Regions from separate parts of the Homo sapiens genome. Here region 1 is linked to region 2. Evidence: fine-mapped expression QTL. A gene starts in region 2. The other region holds a variant in brackets. All regions are shown on one strand. Distances are between the middles of the regions. Region 1 holds the start of XPC (XPC complex subunit, DNA damage recognition and repair factor). Region 2 holds the start of XPC-AS1 (XPC antisense RNA 1).

Region 1 (8,368 bases), 28 kb after region 2:
AAAATCAAGACCCGAGACAAAGCTTTGCAGACATCTCACCTGAGGTCATCCCCATCGCTGAGGGCTTCATCCTTTATAACCTTGAGGTTTTCAGATTTAACAGTCACCTTGGCCACTTTCTTTTTTGCTGGACCATCTGCTGAACCCCCAGGATGACTGCAGCCTCTTTTCCTCTTTCCTTGTGAAACTTTGGAGAGAAGGCTCTTCTTTGGGGGTTTCTCATCTTCAAAGGCATCTAGGTGACAACACAGAACATAAGGTGAGGGGTGGAAGGAAAGGTGGAGGCAGTGCAGCTTATGGGCAGGGGCATAAAACGGCTCTATGACCTGTCTCCAAACCCCATCTCCATCACTGGTTCACCATCCCCTGTCTGGTCAGCAACCAGCTCTCAGCTTCTTCCCACCTGCGGCTAGTCTATATTCACAGTAAAAACCATCTTCCTTTATCAGCACTTTACTTCTCCTATGACTACAGAAAATACCATAGGACTCAAATAAAACCTAACTTCCAGATCTTAAATGTCAGCTAACCTCCTGCCAGGAAAATACAACATCCATTAATTAGCACCTTATTTATTATCTGCCAAAATTAATTGTCTTAGGGATAATGTACTCCTAAGTAAAATGTTAAGTACATAAACATGTCCAAGTTTTACCACAACATCATTACTATTAATCTACATTTCTGCCAACCTTCAAGACCAAACTGCTCAAAACACATACTGCTCTGAAACCTTTCCAATGTAACCCAAATGGCACTCATATACCAACCACCTCAGCAAACTTACAGTTGGAAAAAGACAGCAATAATTCAAAAGTATTTTCTTAAAGTAATTATTTTTTTGTTAAAGGGAAATAAAAAATGCATAAGCTGCTGGTTTTAGTCAAATTGGGGTATCTAAAATTATGGTTTATTTACATATAATAATTATATTAATAGATTAGTTTTAACAAATAATATGGCAGGGAAGGATAGTTTTCTATTTTGCAAATATATTCACACAAATTATCTTGAATCTGAAATAAATCTTTTGTCTTTGCATGACTCTGCTTCAATTAATTTTAGAAAATAAAAATACTCTACCTTTTATTGAGGTTCCAAAAGGGATTGCAATATTAACCTAAAATATAAAATTATTTAATAATTCAGTCTTTTCATTGTTTGTCTTGCTGACTCTCTGGATGGGTATTTATATTCCACAAGAATATACTTTTGCATGAGGGAAAAAAGACTCTCCCTTCTGATCTAAATGAAATCATGATTAAATGTTAATAAAATTCATAACAAAGGAGCATTTATTTTAATGTTAGATCATTGATTCCGTTGTTTCTTTAAATGTTTTATAAAAAAGGAATTTATGCATTCCCATTTTTAAACATTGTATGGAAACCAAAAAATAAGGAAAAATTTTGAAGTACAAATTATTTCAAAATTAATTTTTTCAAATCTGAGAACAGATTGCCTACTCCAAGGCCAGAGGTTGCATAAAGCTTAAGATTTGACAGTTTGAGGAGGGTGCCCCTAAAATCAAGATTTCTGGATCTTACAATGGTAGTTAGCCCTCTAATAATAGGCAAAGATGCTAAACACTTCAATTTCTACTAATCTAAAAAAATGCACGTAGGAGGATACTTCAGAGGCATCACAAACTTTTCTAGTTGGTTAAAAAGCACAGCTTTTATTTCCGTTTGAAGAGAAAGGTAGAGGAGTTAAAAGGGAAAGGGGGATAAAGGAAACACAAAAACTCTGAATCAAAAGGATGTTCATAGTATTCAAAAGCATCTAACAATAATCTGAATGTCCAACCATGAGATAATTGTTAAGTAACTTATGGCAGAGCCACACAACAAAATATAATTGAGTCATCCTTTAAGATAAAGAAAAACGATATATGATGTAATGTTACTCATGCAAAGTTGATTTTACAGTATGCTTTCTGCTATATAAAAAACAGACTAGAAGGAAACAGACCACTATTTCATGGTGGCTATTTCTGGATGGCAGAAATATGGGTGACTTTCTGTTCTCTGCTATTTTTTGGTCCCTAAGCATCTAGAGACTCTTTTCCAGGACTCTCCAAAATCTTGAGTTATCTAATATGCCTAACCAGACTCCTTGAGTTCAGTGTTCTTTCAGTAGGGCAGGAATTACCACTGTGGTCTGCTTGCCCATCTACTGGGATTTAATAAGAACACCGGAGTAAACCTTCCAGCAGCAACTCATAGCACTCAGAATAAAATTCCAACTCCTTAGCTTGGTATCCAAGCTCAGGCCCTTGCTCACTTCTCCTACCCAGCCCCTCGCTCGCTGTGTCCAGCCAACTGGCCAAGTTCATTCCCTCCTAAGAGTGTTTAAACACACTGTTCTCTCTGCCTAGAACTCTTTTCCCCAGAACTTCCTATGAATGGCTCAAAATTACACTAAATGCCTCAAAATGCCACCTCCTTACAAAGGCCTTCCCTGACACTGATTCCCATTTAGCTGCCTCTCCCCCAGCCCCATATAAGTTTGAGGGTTTTTCTTTTCATCTATAGAAGCATTTTCTGCTATGTACCCAAATAAGTTTTATCACAGCAGTCTTAGCACAGGGTGATAGCTCTTATCATCATGTGAATCCGTTTTTTTTTAACTTGTTATCTGCTCTAAGTACCCCTCCCCCCAGATTATAATCATGAGAGCAGGTGCCTCATCTGTCTTGTTCAATATTATCCTAGTACCTGGAACAGTGTGTGAAAATAGTAGGCGCTCAATAAACAGCTGTTGAAGGAATTAATGGATATCACTGAAGGTGTTAACACAGAGAAGAAATGAAAAGAAACCAGAGGTGCTTTAGTAACACAAAGGAAATCATGTGGAAGCCTGTTTTCTTTTCTCCTATTTGTCAAAAGCAGCCAAGTATCACCTTCATTTGCATGTACAGGGGTGCTATTAAAACCTACACTATTACAGTGTTAGCAACTACACTGACAGTCACCAAATTATTGTCATCTGCAGCCCAAACCATACTTGCTAAGTCTATGCTTCCCCACAAAACCACCAAACCACAACAAAGGTTGTAACTCTGCAGATCCTGGAAGCTGCCTTGGGAACTGACTGCTAGCTCCTCTGGCTAGCAGAATAAACTTGGGTGCATCTTTACCTCCGTTTAGGCTGAATGACACCAGCTAGCCCAACTAATTTACCTAACATGGGTAAAGCTAAAGCTCTTGGCTTTATATGCTATCCCACTGAAAACTCACAGCCACCCCGCAAGGCAGTTATTACATTTCACAGAGGAAATTCAGAAGGGCTAAAACATTTGTCCAAAATAATTCACCCAAGTGCATAAAACTAAGAATTGAAGCTCTACCAAGCTGGAACCGAGGTGAAGTGTTGAGCTGGGAAGAATACAGGTAGCATTTCCATCAGATTAAAACCGTAAATTTTTAATTGCCATATATCCAAATTACATTCTGACTAGAATACCGGCCCCTTTTTGTGACCCCTTGCTAAAATACCAACCATCCTTTAAATCACAGATCAAACTACTTCAGAGAGCGTTCCCCGATCACGCCAGTCAAACTTGATTAATCCTTTGGAAGCTACAAAGCCTTGTACCTTCTTCCACAATATTTAGCACACTTTGCCTTGAATGTTTTACATGTAAATGTCATGTCAACACTACTCTATGATCCTCCAAGATATGTTTATCTCTCATGTCACCTCATTCATGTACAGCACATAGTAGATACTCAAAAGATGTTATTTGAATGAGTAAATGAGTGAATAAAATGGAACTCGTAATATTACATATGAGGTAAATCACCTCCTAAGTTTACGAATTATTACCATTTCACTATTTCCTAATGGATGATGAATTTATAACCGGTATAGAAACAGAATCTAGTGTGATAGCCTTTGCCGGTTACCTAGTCTAATCTACCCAGTTTTTTCAGGAGACCCAGAAATTCCTTCTACAGCCTGCATTTTGCAATTATTTAAAATATTTACTAGCC[G/A]GGCGCAGTGGCTCATGCCTGTAATCCCAACACTTCGGGAGGCCGAGGCAAACGGATCACCTGAGGTCAGGAGTTTGAGACCAGCCTGGCCAACATGGCGAAACCCCATCTATACAAAAATACAAAAATTAGCCGGACATGGTGTCAGGCACCTGTAACACCAGCTACTCGGGAGGCTGAGGCAGGAGAATCACTTGAACCTAGGAGGCGGAGGTCACGCCACTGCACTCCAGCCTCAGCGACAGAGTGAGACACTGTCTCGAAAAAAATAAAAAATAAATAAAATATTTATTTAGCATTTAGCCCTACCAATCCACGGGCCCTGCATCCACAGATTCAACCAACCACAGATGAATATATTTCGGGAAAAAAAATACAAATTTAAAAAATACAGCATGACAACTATTTCCATAGTATCCACATTGTATTAGGTATTATTAGTGATCTAGAGATGATTTAAAGTATGTCGGAGGATGTGCATAGGTTACATGGAAACACTAGGCCATTTGATATAAGGTACTTGAGCATCACAGGTTTTAGTATCCGCGGGGTATCTGGGAAGGACCACCTTAGTTTGCTCAAGGAATGTCTAACTTGAGTTTTGAAGAAATAGAAAAAATCAGCCCTGGTAAAAGCCATGGGGGGTTCACTCTAGGCAGAAGGAACATCAAAGGAAAAGACTCAAGGAATAACTTGGCATATTTGAGGAAGAGAAAGGAGGCCAATAAGGAGGGTATCTGGCAAGGAAACAAGTGGTAAGAGAAACAGGAGAGGTAGCAAGAGCCAAAACATGTAGTATCTTGTAGGCCAGGATAAAACAACTGGATTTTAAGCTAAGAGCAATGGAAAACCAAGGGGAGTTTAAAGCAGGAGCAGGGCATGATTTTTTTTTTTTTTAAGATTATTTGGGTTGCTGGATGCAGAGCTGGGAGGCCAGTAAAGAGGAAACTGCAGTCACTCAACTGAAAGGTGATGATGACTTGGACAGGGGCTGTGGTCATGGAAATGAAGAGAAGTGGACAAATTTGAAATACACTCTTGAGGCTGAACTGACTGGACTTGCTGACGGACTGGATGTGTGGACATAAGAAAAAGGTGGGCTTTGCTTTATAACAAGTATTGAGACTGGAAAAACGGAGGAAAGCATAGATTTAAAGAGGAAAACCATGAGTTCTGCATTGCCCATGACAAATGTAAGAAGCCTATCAAATATCCATGAGGGGAAGTCAGGTGGGATCCCACTGTGGAACTCTGGGTGAGACTCAGCTGAAGTTATCATTCGGGAGTCAGCACACTGCATCACTCTACGTCCTGGTCCGTCCGTCTGTCTTCCTGGGACACAAATAACTGCCTTCTCCGAGTTCAACCCTGAACATCTGTATCCTCTGGACAACGGGGAGCGGGAAAAAAGCTACGCAGGAGCTTGGATCGGGCGAAGCTCGCGGGAAACCGCTCTGGGTGCGCAGGACAAAGACGCGGGGACAGCGGGGAGGGCCGGCCGCAGCCTGCCGGGCTGCCCCCACGGCGCGGAACGCGCGCAGCAACCTCCACCAGGCCTCCGCGTCTGGACTCCCGCCCTGCCTCTGGGCCTCCTCCGCCCACCGGCGGCGTCTCCCGCGAAGCCCGCTGGGCCTCGCTCTCACCCTCCTCCTCCTCCTCACGCCGGGCCTTGCTCTTGGCCTTGGATTTCTGGCTGCGCAGTTCGCGTCCCCGCGGCTCCCCGCCGGCCGCGCGTTTCCGAGCCATGTTGCTTGTCTGGGCAAATTCCACTTCGCGAGTGACGCACCCGGCCGCGATGCGCTAGAACGCCGGCCCCGCCCCGAGGCGGTGCGCTTGGCCACGCCCCTTCGTTGGAGGCCTAGTCACGCCCCTAAAGGAAGCTCCACCCCATACCCGTGGCCACTAAAAAACTGCGGGAAGCAGGAAAGAGCACAACAGGTTTCTCTCTATTTCCGGTGTATTGTATCCTCACGTTTCCGGAGATTGACGTTGCTCTTGTGTTCTCGCGAGAGGCGGGAAAGGGCGCAGGGTTTGAAACATGGCGGACGACGTAGACCAGGTAAGTGTATTTTAAGGAGGTCGCTCGAAGGAGCTTCTTGTACTAGGCTGCTTTTTCCAGACTCAGGAAAAATGGCCAGTCGTGCCTCCTCTCTCCAAGTCACCATGGCCTAATCCACCCTGTCCTTTCCGTAACCCCCCCTCCGAATTTTGCCGTAGGCCCTGAGACCTTTTCCTGTTAGAAGCCCACCTGATGACTATTCTCACACTCTTCGCTTCATTTTTTTAAATCTGTAGATTATTATCCTTAGCTACCTCATGGAGCTGTCAGGATTCCAATAGAAAGCCAGGTAATAAAGTTAGGAGTTGTTATCATTAGTGAGCGCAACAATTATTTATTCATTCAGCAGATAGAGTGAACATCAGCTTTGTATGGTTAGGCACTGTTCTAAGGGCCAGGGACACTGACATCGACATATAAGAGATCCTTGCCATTACTTGGAGCTTATATTTGCGAGGAGAACAGATAAAAGTAAATATAAATATGTAAGACTTCCAGGAACTGTGATGTGCTGTGAAGGAAACAAGGAACTGGTATGCAGAATAACAGATGGTCCTAGAAGCTTTTTCACCTGGTCTTTTTCTTCCTCAAATATCTTTGGAGATCATGCCACAACTTAAACTTTCTACTGAAATCTGACCTCCTCAGAGAGGACTTCTGCCCAAATAGCACTCCCGCTACTCTGGTTACCCTGCCTCATTTTTCTTCATAGAGAGTTATTTTTTCATATTAAATGTATGCATCTTTGTTTAATGTGAATCTCTCCCCACTAGAATGTAAATGCCATAAGAGCAGGGATTTTGTTTTGTTCATTCTTTTGTCTTTGGGGTTTAGAACAGTGCTGGAAACACTCAAAAAATATTTGAGTGAATGAGTTAGATGATCAGAGGAAGCCTCTTTGAGAAGCCAATATTTAAAGCTACAGGATGAAAAGAGCAGACAGTGGGCATCCCAGACAGAGGCTTAGGTAGCAGTAGGGCTTTTTCATGTGCATATTCTTACAGTATTATAATTATTTGTATGCCTCTCCACAGTAGAATGAGCTCCTTGAGGGTGGGGATTGTGACTTCTCTATCATTGTAATCTAACAGTTGGTTATCTGATCCTTTAACAAACACTTGTTGAACTGAGGGACATAGGGACCAGTTGAGTTAGGTTATTTTTTTCTCTCATCAGGCCTTTTGAATCTTCAGAGCCTGTTACCAATTCAGTTACCTTCCTCCACTGGCCTTGTGTACTTACTGAAGAAGCTCTCCTTGAATAATCTTTCTAACTCTTAGCGGCTGCAACCATCCCTTCCATGTGGGTGACCCCAAGTCATCCTAGCCCTGACCTCTAAAACCAATGTTTCCAGCAGTTCTGTAATAATATAATATTAATAGGAATCTTTTCTTTTCCTTTTTTTTTCTATTCTTTTCTTTTTTTTGGATGGAGTCTCACTCTATCGCCCAGGCTGGAGTGCAGTGGCGTGATCTCAGCTCACTGCAACCTCTGCCTCCTGGGTTCAAGTGATTCTCCTGTCTCAGCCTCCCAAGTAGCTGGGACTACAGGTGCGTGCCGCCACACCTGGCTAATTTTTGTATTTTTCGTAGAGATGGGGTTTCACCATGTTGGCCAGGCTGGTCTCAAACTCCTAACCTCAGGTGATCTGCCTTTCTCAGCCGCCCAAAGTGCTGGGATTCAAGCGTGAGCCACCACGCCCGGCCAATAGGAACCATTTCTAAATATTAATATTTTCTGTTTTCCTGGCACTGTTTTTAAATGCATTAACTAGTTTAATCCTCATAAGAACCCAGAAAGAAGGTTGTGGCTTTCTCAATTACAAATGAAGAATCTGAGAATTACAGATGGCATGATTTTTAATCTCAGTTCATAAATGTCAGGTCACAGCCAGGAGTTGAACCCGGACTGCCTGACTCCAAAGCCAGTGCTTGCTTGCCTTTTTTTTTTTTTTTTTTTTTTTTTTTTTTTTTTTTAAAAAAAAAAAAGACAAGAGTCTCACTCTGTTGCCCAAGCTGGAGTGCAGTGGCACGATCTTGGCTCACTGCAACCTCCACCTCGCCAGGCTCAAGCAATCCTCCCACCTCAGCCCTTGGAGTAGCTGGGACTACAGGCATGTGCCACCATGCCCGGCTAAGCCAGTGCTTTCAACCAGTGTTCTATACTGGCTACTAAATATATTTATCTTATTCACCAGTTGGCAGCCTAAACTCAACCTGTGCTGAATTCATAATCTTCCCATAAACCTACACCTCTATTTGGCATTCTGACTAGTGTATGGTAGGCATTAAGTGAGTGTTTTTCCAATGATTAC
Region 2 (8,227 bases):
CCTCTATAGGAGGGCCGAGCTCTGGTGAGGAAGTGTGAGACCAGTTTCCATAGCAACCCCAGTCTGTTTCTCAACAAGAGGTTCCAGCCAGCCTCTTGCCACATATGAGTCATAACTCAAGTGTTTTGTTTGTTTCCCTTGGATAAAAGTGACTCCGATTTTTAATGGCTCCTCTCAAAGATTAACATCTCTTCACTAAATACAGAAGAATTCCATATGTAATGAATTTCCAGCCTCCATGAAAACAAAATGGACTCTTTCATGCTGTCTCAACATATGAATACATTGCTCTGTCACCTGGGTGTTATTACCGACTTAAATCTGAAAGAAGCTGGGCACGGCAGTGGTGTGTGGGTGCCTGCAGTCCTGAGGAGCTGGGACTGTTTCCCGAACAATGCCTTTCCACCACACACGGTGGTTGTGAGGGCCAGCTGAGGCAAAGCCCTCAGGAAGACCACTCAAGCCCAGGAGTCCAGCCTGCGCAAGACAGTAAGACCCCTTAAAAAAAAAAAAATCTGAAAGAAAATATAGAGCCAAATCTTTAGATAAATGCTTTATTATTTTCTCAAAATGTTATAAAAGTCATTTCTCCTTAGTACAGAGAGCTTTATACATTTTATCTAGTAATGAATACAATCTAGTTTAACACTCATCTATTTTACTAACATTTCCTTAATTTTCAATTCGTATTTTTCCTTTTCTTTCCTGATTTTAGCTTTTTTTAGGCTTCTGTCACCACAAAATGTTACTTGGAAAACTAGATCCCAGCAGATGACCTGTACTTCTCTGCTCTCTCCCCTACTGCAAAGAGGCAGTGAGGGCAGCATTAGTAAGCCTGACTCAGGGGAAGGTAAGTGGCCTGCAGAGAAATGGTCCTAGGTCCGCAACCGAGGCGAGTGAACTTGTCGGACAGATGAAGACTCTAACTGGAAGAAACGATCAGCGCATTCACGGATGCACCACCATCCAGAAATCTCCCGGTGGCTTCCATACAAAAACTGATGTTTCTAAAGATGGAAAGAACAGGTCTAGGAGGCAGAAGAGTATCTCCTAGCAAAGTGTTCTGTAGCTCAAAGGGTGAGTGGGCTTTGGTAGCAAAAAGCTTTGAAGGCTTCACCCTGGGTGAATCTGACAAGGGCTGGAGCCAGACGGGACCTGCAGCACCTCCTCAGCTTGGCCTCGTCTCCCCTGACCCCGCCTCCGTGCATGCTGCCTCAGTTTGCCTTCTCAGCAGAGAAGCCCCCACCACCAGGGGCTGGGCATGCCCAGGGCAGGTGTGGGGCCTGTAGTGGGGCAGCAGCAACTGGTGGGTGCCCCTCTAGTGGGCGCTCAGCTCACAGCTGCTCAAATGGGAACAGGTGGGAAGCTGCTGCTTTCTTTTCCCTTTTGGTCTTCTTGGGCCCACCCTTCAGCTTCTGCTTTTCTTCATCTTCTCGGTTTTGAGGCCAGGAGGCAGCCAGTATCCTGGCCGCTTCTGCTTGAGAGCTGGTCCCCTCCTCTTCATCAGAAGAGAGTCCACCTCCTGCATCTGTGTGGGGAGCTGCTGCCTCACTCTGGACAGGTGGCAGTGGTGGGAGGACACAGGCGAGGGTTAGTAATCAGATACCAGGAAGCCCCATGAAGAGGCAGCAAGTTCCCAGCCTGCCCTAAGCTGTGTAACTCTGGGAGGACAAGGGCATGGGACAGGGCAGGGAGAGAGCCCAGACCCTTCTTACTGAGCCGTCCCAGCCTGGGGTGCATCCAAGCAGACACTGGAGCACCTGCTACGAGCTGAGTGCAGGGGAACACAAGGATGATGGCTGGGCAGGAAGCTGCCCTCTAGGAGCACACTGCCTCATCTGGGGATGCCTGTGATTCGTGCCTTGCATTTGCTACCTCATTTCTGGACCAAAGCACATGATGTCTTGAACGGGCAAGATGCACAGTTCAGCCCTCGGAGCCCTAAGATCTGAGGCGGCACTCCCTGCCAGCTGGGATGGCTAGGGAGGGTTTGGATGGAGAAGGCGGCAAGGAGCTGGTCAGAACATAAAGTCAGATGAAGGGCTTTTCTCCACCAGAGGGACTGGAATGAGGAGCGTGACAAAAAAATGTTGAAAGGCAAACAGGCAGCACAGAGGGTTGGAGAGAGGGAACAAAACATGCCAGAGCAGTTTCTGCTGTGTCTGACACAGCACTGACTATACCATGTAACTGGGCCTAGGGTCCATCTGCCCCAGGGAGGGGCCCCCTTGAGGGCTGCATGTCAAATTCACACCTGTGTCCAAGCCTGGCCTGGCACATGGCAGGTGCTGTGAGAGAGGTACTGAGCGGGCCACTGCAGGCCTGCAGCATGGTCACAGGCACTGGGAACACTGGAAGGCGGAAGGGTGCACCAAATGCAGGACACTTGGCCCTCCCTATGTGTTCAGCGCCAAATCAGACCCATGGCATTGCTCATGTGGACAGTAGAAACGGGGACACTGGGACAGGGCTTGGGGCAGAAGAGCCAGCTGAGGCCTCACTCCAGGGACACCTTTCCCAACAAGGTAAAAACAAGCGGCCTTAGAGACAGAAGACTGAGGTGTCCTAACACAAAGCTATCCCTGACTTGAGGCTGGGGCAGAATCTGGGCCAGGCCTTTCTGAGCTGCATCTCCAAGAAACTGACCCTGAGCTTGTCTTCTCTGCAAAGAACCTGCACTGACCTTGGGCCCGTAGCGACGCTTCAGCCTCTCCCTGATGAGCAGACCTTTGGCCAGCAACTTCCAGTTCCCTAGAGCCCGCTTCTCCTTTTTCTGCAGGCAAAAATGAAGTGGGAGAAAAGTGTTAAGCACTGACATTTTCAGGAAAAATATTAAGATGGAAACTGTGAATGTAAAGACAGATATATACACCACTTTAGAATATAGCCTCTCCTTCACACCAAGTCTCACTTCCAAAAAATTGATCTGATTTACAAAGTGATATACTATACCTGAAAGCCACAAAAACAGATAACTTTTTAATCGTTACTGACTCCAAAATCTTTAGTGGGTGAGGTCTTCCAGAACCTGGACACAGGCAATTCAAGACAGAGGCAGGTGTGGGCAGCAGGGGCAGTAGACCCCAGAGCCCGGACCCAGGCTCCTCAGGGACAGTGATAGTCTGCGGGGTGGGCAGGAGCCTGCTGTATTCAGTGCTCGCTCCCTCGGGTGCCTGCCATGATGTCAGAGAGGGCTGGGAAGAGCCTGGGAGCACACGGAGGCGGCCTGGGGAAGGAAGAGGCCACCCGCTGAGTGTTGCTTCCCGCTTCTGCTGTCCCTCAGTCCTGCATATGCGCTTACCTCCTTCTCCTTCCTTTCAATGACTGCCTGCTCATTTTCCCAGGCAGTCAGGAGCACGTCTTTGAATTCCTCGCAGACGATGTATCCATCAGTCCTGTGGGGACACAACGCGATGTCAACCCTCGAACCTGCTGCCTGCTCTGCCTCTCCTCCCTCCCCAGTTTGTGGAAGACAGTGGGCCACATCTGAGCACTAGGGGTCCTGAAGGATGTCGCGGGTCAGCCAGTGTCCCACATCCTCCGTGCAGAAGGCAGGCCTGTGGAAGCTGGCACTGCCTCTTCCTCCCCAGATTCTGCCGAAGAAAGCTGGGGTGAAAGCCCCTATCCAGCCTCACCCATCATGGAACAGAGCTCACTAACCAGGCAGCTGCCGGGGAAAGATGCTGACTGTTTTTTGCTCACTAGCCTGTGAGTCCCTAAACCTGGGAAGAACGTTTTAATCCAGCATTACGATGCCAGTTTCATTGGCTCCGTTCCCTCTGGAGGGAAGCCAGAATTGGTAAAGCACTGACTTTGCAAATCCAGTGTAACATCCTGAAAATTGGAGCCACCAGGCCTCAACTCCCAGCAGCCCCATGCCAGCTTTCCATCCCCATCTCTGGAGCCACCCCTCCCCATCCCTGTGTTTAGCCTCCATCGAAGGCCCCTCACGCACACGGGATGGGAGTAGCCGCCATGGAAATCAAAGCCAGTGATGGCCTGGACACAGTCGATGTCCAGCTTGCGGGCCACGCGGTGTAGATTGGGCAGGTTCAGCTGGACACAGCCAATAGGCATCATGCTGGGCAGGAAGAGGTACACATTCCCAAACTCGTTCCGGGGCACCTGTGTCGGGTGAGCAAGTCAGCATTTGGCCAGCAGGGGAACAAGGCGGCCTGGTCCTGAGCCCTTCTGATGCTGCCCTTACCTTCCCGTCCACGGCCACTGGGGGCTGATACTCCTCTGTCTGCCAGTAGCCAAACAGGCCCAGGTCATTTTCTTCCCGCAGCTGGGGCTCAGCAAGTCGGGCTTTCCGAGCACGGTTAGAAAAGCCTTTCACCATCTGCACCAGAGGACACGGCCACCGTTTACAACAAAGGCATCCAGTTCCTCAGCACCGGGCCAGGCACCATGCTCAGTGCCGCATGCCTGGTACCTGGTGAACCCTCAGAACACACCTACCAGCTGGGGTGCTTTTTCTCCCTTTTTTTTTTTTGAGACAGAGTCTCGCTCTGTCGCCCAGGCTGGAGTACAGTGGTGCAATCTTGGCTCGCTGCAACCTCTGCCTCCTGGGTTTAAGCAATTCTCCTGCCTCAGCCTCCTGAGTAGCTGGGATTACAGGTGCCTGCCACCACGCCCGGCTAATTTTTGTATTTTTAGTAGAGACGGGGGTTTCACCATGTTGGCCAGGCTGGTCTCGAACTCCTGACCTCAGGTGATGCACTCGCCTCAACCTCCCAAAGGGCTGGGATTACAGGCGTGAGCCACCGTGCCCGGCTGCTCCCCTTTTCTTACTACAAGCACTAGCTAACATTTATGGAACATTCTCTGTCCCAGACACTATTCTCGGTGTTTTTTGTTTTTTTATCCCCCTGAGACGGAGTCTCACTCTGTTGCCCAGGCTGGAGTGCCCTGGTGTGATCTCAGCTCACTACAACCTCCACCTCCCGGATTCAAGTGATTCTCGTGCCTGTCTCCTGAGTAGCTGGGACTACAGGTACCCGCCACCATGCCCAGCTAATTTTTATATTTTTGGTAGAGATGGGGTGTCACCATATTGGCCTGGCTGGTCTCAAACTTCTGACCTCAAATGATCCACCTGCCTTGGCCTCCGAAAGTGCTGGAATTACAGGCATGAGCCACTGCGCCCAGCCTATCTTCAGTGCTTTATATGTTATTATTTAATTTTTTCAACAAACCCACAAGGTAGGTCTTATTATTGTTTCCATTTTACAGATGAACACCACAGACGGGGTAAATGATTTGCCTAAAGTCACACAGCTCGTAAGGGCCAGAGCCCACACTTTCATCCACTAGCCTATATTCTGTGCTGTCATCACTGATAGCAGTGACTGAGACTGAGAGACAAAGTCACTTAAGAGCTGATGGCTGGTAAGTGACAAGAACCAGGATTTACAATTCAGGTAACTGTCCATCAGTAGAGCCTGTGTCTCAACATATAACCTATGTCTGCTCACACGCCCTAGAAAGCACTGACAGTTCAGGACTCCCAGTGTGCTCCCCAACAGCGTGCAGTGGCCAAGGCCAAGATCTTCCCTGGGGAGTGAAGTGGTGAGAGGGGCGCAGGACAGGCAAGGACAGAGTCACGTAACTCTTAGAGGAGTCAGGCATGGGCGTGCGGCTGAGGGCTGGCCCCTGGGCCTCAGCATACAGACTTCCTCTAGTGCAGGGGCCCACAAGCTTGTTCTGTAAAGGGTCATGCGTGGCCTCCATCACATATTCTTTATTCTTCTCATTCTTATAACCCTTTAAAAATGTGAAAAGCCATTCCCCAGGTTGGGGGTGGCCTGCGAGCTCTCATGTCCATTCCTGCCATGATCTCTGGGCGCACCCTCTCTGTCACCACTTCAGGGACAGAGGGACTCTGAGTTCTGACAACCGTCCCTTTCTGAGAAGCCATTCACCCAGCACACTGTTCAGTAAACTTCCACTGGGATCTCCTGGAGACCAGGCCATGACCCAGTCATGAAGGAGGGATGGAGCGAGGACAGTCTTTGCTCTTAGGAGCTCAGGCTCCTGCAGGGGAAGAGACAGAGCTACGACTCAGCGTGATGAGTACAGGGTGGAACAGGAGCTCAGAGGCAAGCCATTGCCCAGCCCTGAGGACAGTGGAGGCAAGAAAGGCTGCTCAAAACAGGTCCCGCCTGAGCAGAGGCTTAAAGGGGCAAGGGGTTGCCCAAGAGAACAGGGCTGGACCCCACAGGGCACAGAGGTGGGAGAACACTGGGACCTGGGGCCTAAGTCCTCTGGAATGCAGAGGCAGTGAGCACCAGAACATCACTGTGCACCATGGGGAGGGTGCGGGACTCAGACTAAAGGCGCTGGCCAAGGTGGGACAAGGATGGCCAAGATGCACAGAAAGAGCCTAGTGACTGACAGGGGAATGGATTCAGGCTGGGAAGGAGGCTGTGGCTGTTGCCCAAGCAAAAGATACTGAGGCAGGAGCTGGGGTGGTGGGGATCAGAACAAGGGGTGAATTTGAGAGATTTGGGATTCCAGAACTGTGCTACCATGACAGCCACCAGTCACGTGTGGCCACTGCACACCTGAAACGTGGCTGGTCTGAACTAAGGTACAGAAAGTCAAATACACAGAAGATTAGAGAGACTTAGGAACAAAATGGATTTAAATATCTCATCAACACTTTAAAATATTTCTTACTGCTGAAATAGTATTTTAGATATATCTGGATATATTTTAATGTTAAAATTCCACCTGTTTTTGGTTTTTAATGTAGCTACTAAAAAATTTAAATGTGTGGCTCACGTTACATTTCAACTGAACACTGCTATGCTGGTTCCAGCACAAAAGACAGGTGAGATGGTGCAGAGAAAATCCTCAGCAACCCTGCAGGCCCAGGCAGGGGGCATCGCCCACTCCAGCCTGCTGCTGGCAGTGACTGTGACCAGCGCCTGCAGCCTTTCCCACTAAGCGGAGGCCCCTCCACTCCCCACTCAGCTTCCCGGAGTCTTGCAACCCCCAAGGACTCCTGGGGTCTGATGAGAAGTAAATGGTCTCTGTGATCAGCCACTGTACACTTCCGGTCGTACGGAGCTGTGTGTCCTGTGAATAGTCTCTGTGGGACCTCGCTCGGTTCGTGTTCCTCAAGAGCAACCAGCCTAACAGTGCCGCAGCACAGTGTGAAAGGAGCACTGGCTTTAAGGCAGAGCCTGGGATTCTCACCTGGGCTCTGCTCTGCCATTTTACTAACTGTGGGGACTTGGACAAGTCACTTGCCCTGAGCTTCAGTTTTCTCATCTGTAAAATGGGCATCATAATGCCAATTCCTATGGCTTTTGAGGCAACAGAGATCACATACATGCAAAATGCTCAGTGAACTGCCAAACAGAAGGGCAATCTGACTGGAGAACGTGCTGCTATAAAGCAGGGCTCTGACCTCCCAGGACCCAGTAACTCAATTCCAACCTGTAGAACCTTTGAATTCACAACAGGAGTCTGAGGCCTACTTTTTGGCCTAGATTTCTTTTGTGTTTTGGAAGATCCATTTCTTACAAATGTCTTATTAATAAGACAATTTAAATGTTTCTCTCCTCCTTGAATCCTGCTCAAGCCGGGAAAGTGAGACATTTCTGATCAGGATCCTGGGCAGGACTGGGAGGCTCATCATCACTTCTCTGCCCCCAGCTCTCCCGCTCAGCTACAGGCCTGTGTCACCACTCCCCACAGGGACCCCCCAGCTCCAGTTACCTTGTAGGGTACTTCTCCAAGCCTCACCACTCTTGCTTTCTTCAGCCACGTGTCCCTGGAATGCAGAGTGTGCACACAATCCCTGTGGAACCAACACAGGACACAAAGGTAACTCAGTCCACAGCCCCACTGCGGGAATGCGGGACAGTGGAGAGCGCAGCCCTGCAGGCTCCCTCCTCAGGTTCAGCCACCCTGGAGCAGGCCGAGCTCCTAGGGGGCCCAGAGAAGCTGTGCTAGGCAAACAGCCTTGAACGTGGACTGCCTGTCTTTTGGGGGATGTGTCCACTTACAAACCCTAATCTGCAGCCTTTGTGCCTTGCCTCCACCACTCCTCCCCTTCATAGGTTTTCTTCTCCTCTGCTGTCCAGAGCCTGTGAGAGCTCCAGCTGCAGACTATCAGGATGGGGTAAAGGCCGCTGTGCGCAGGCACACTCACGTTTACTACCACCACCAAGCGAACACCTGCTGAGGCTCTGATCTGCTGTTAACACCATGTGGG

Evidence for each region. PIP is the estimated chance that this variant, and not a neighbour inherited with it, causes the effect.
Region 1: its variant is fine-mapped to the expression of XPC-AS1 in whole blood (INTERVAL, PIP above 0.99).

What each region holds. Positions count from the first base shown.
Region 1 is chr3:14,172,828-14,181,195 of GRCh38, forward strand. XPC (XPC complex subunit, DNA damage recognition and repair factor) reads right to left here and starts at 5,774. Exons shown (of 16, transcript NM_004628.5): 1 at 5,639-5,774; 2 at 40-235. The coding sequence starts at 5,741. It overlaps LSM3 (LSM3 homolog, U6 small nuclear RNA and mRNA degradation associated), which reads left to right and starts at 5,990. Exons shown (of 4, transcript NM_014463.3): 1 at 5,990-6,054. The coding sequence starts at 6,034. RefSeq lists a silencer at 5,414-5,533 and enhancers at 5,584-5,933, 6,034-6,083. The variant G/A (reference allele first, on the strand shown) is at 3,996.
Region 2 is chr3:14,144,607-14,152,833 of GRCh38, forward strand. It overlaps XPC-AS1 (XPC antisense RNA 1), which reads left to right and starts at 4,956. Exons shown (of 2, transcript XR_001740603.2): 1 at 4,956-4,996; 2 at 5,236-8,227. It overlaps XPC (XPC complex subunit, DNA damage recognition and repair factor), which reads right to left. Exons shown (of 16, transcript NM_004628.5): 11 at 7,729-7,810; 12 at 4,208-4,342; 13 at 3,956-4,125; 14 at 3,302-3,395; 15 at 2,684-2,773; 16 at 541-1,553. The coding sequence ends at 1,335. RefSeq lists enhancers at 174-283, 3,947-4,631, 6,249-6,749.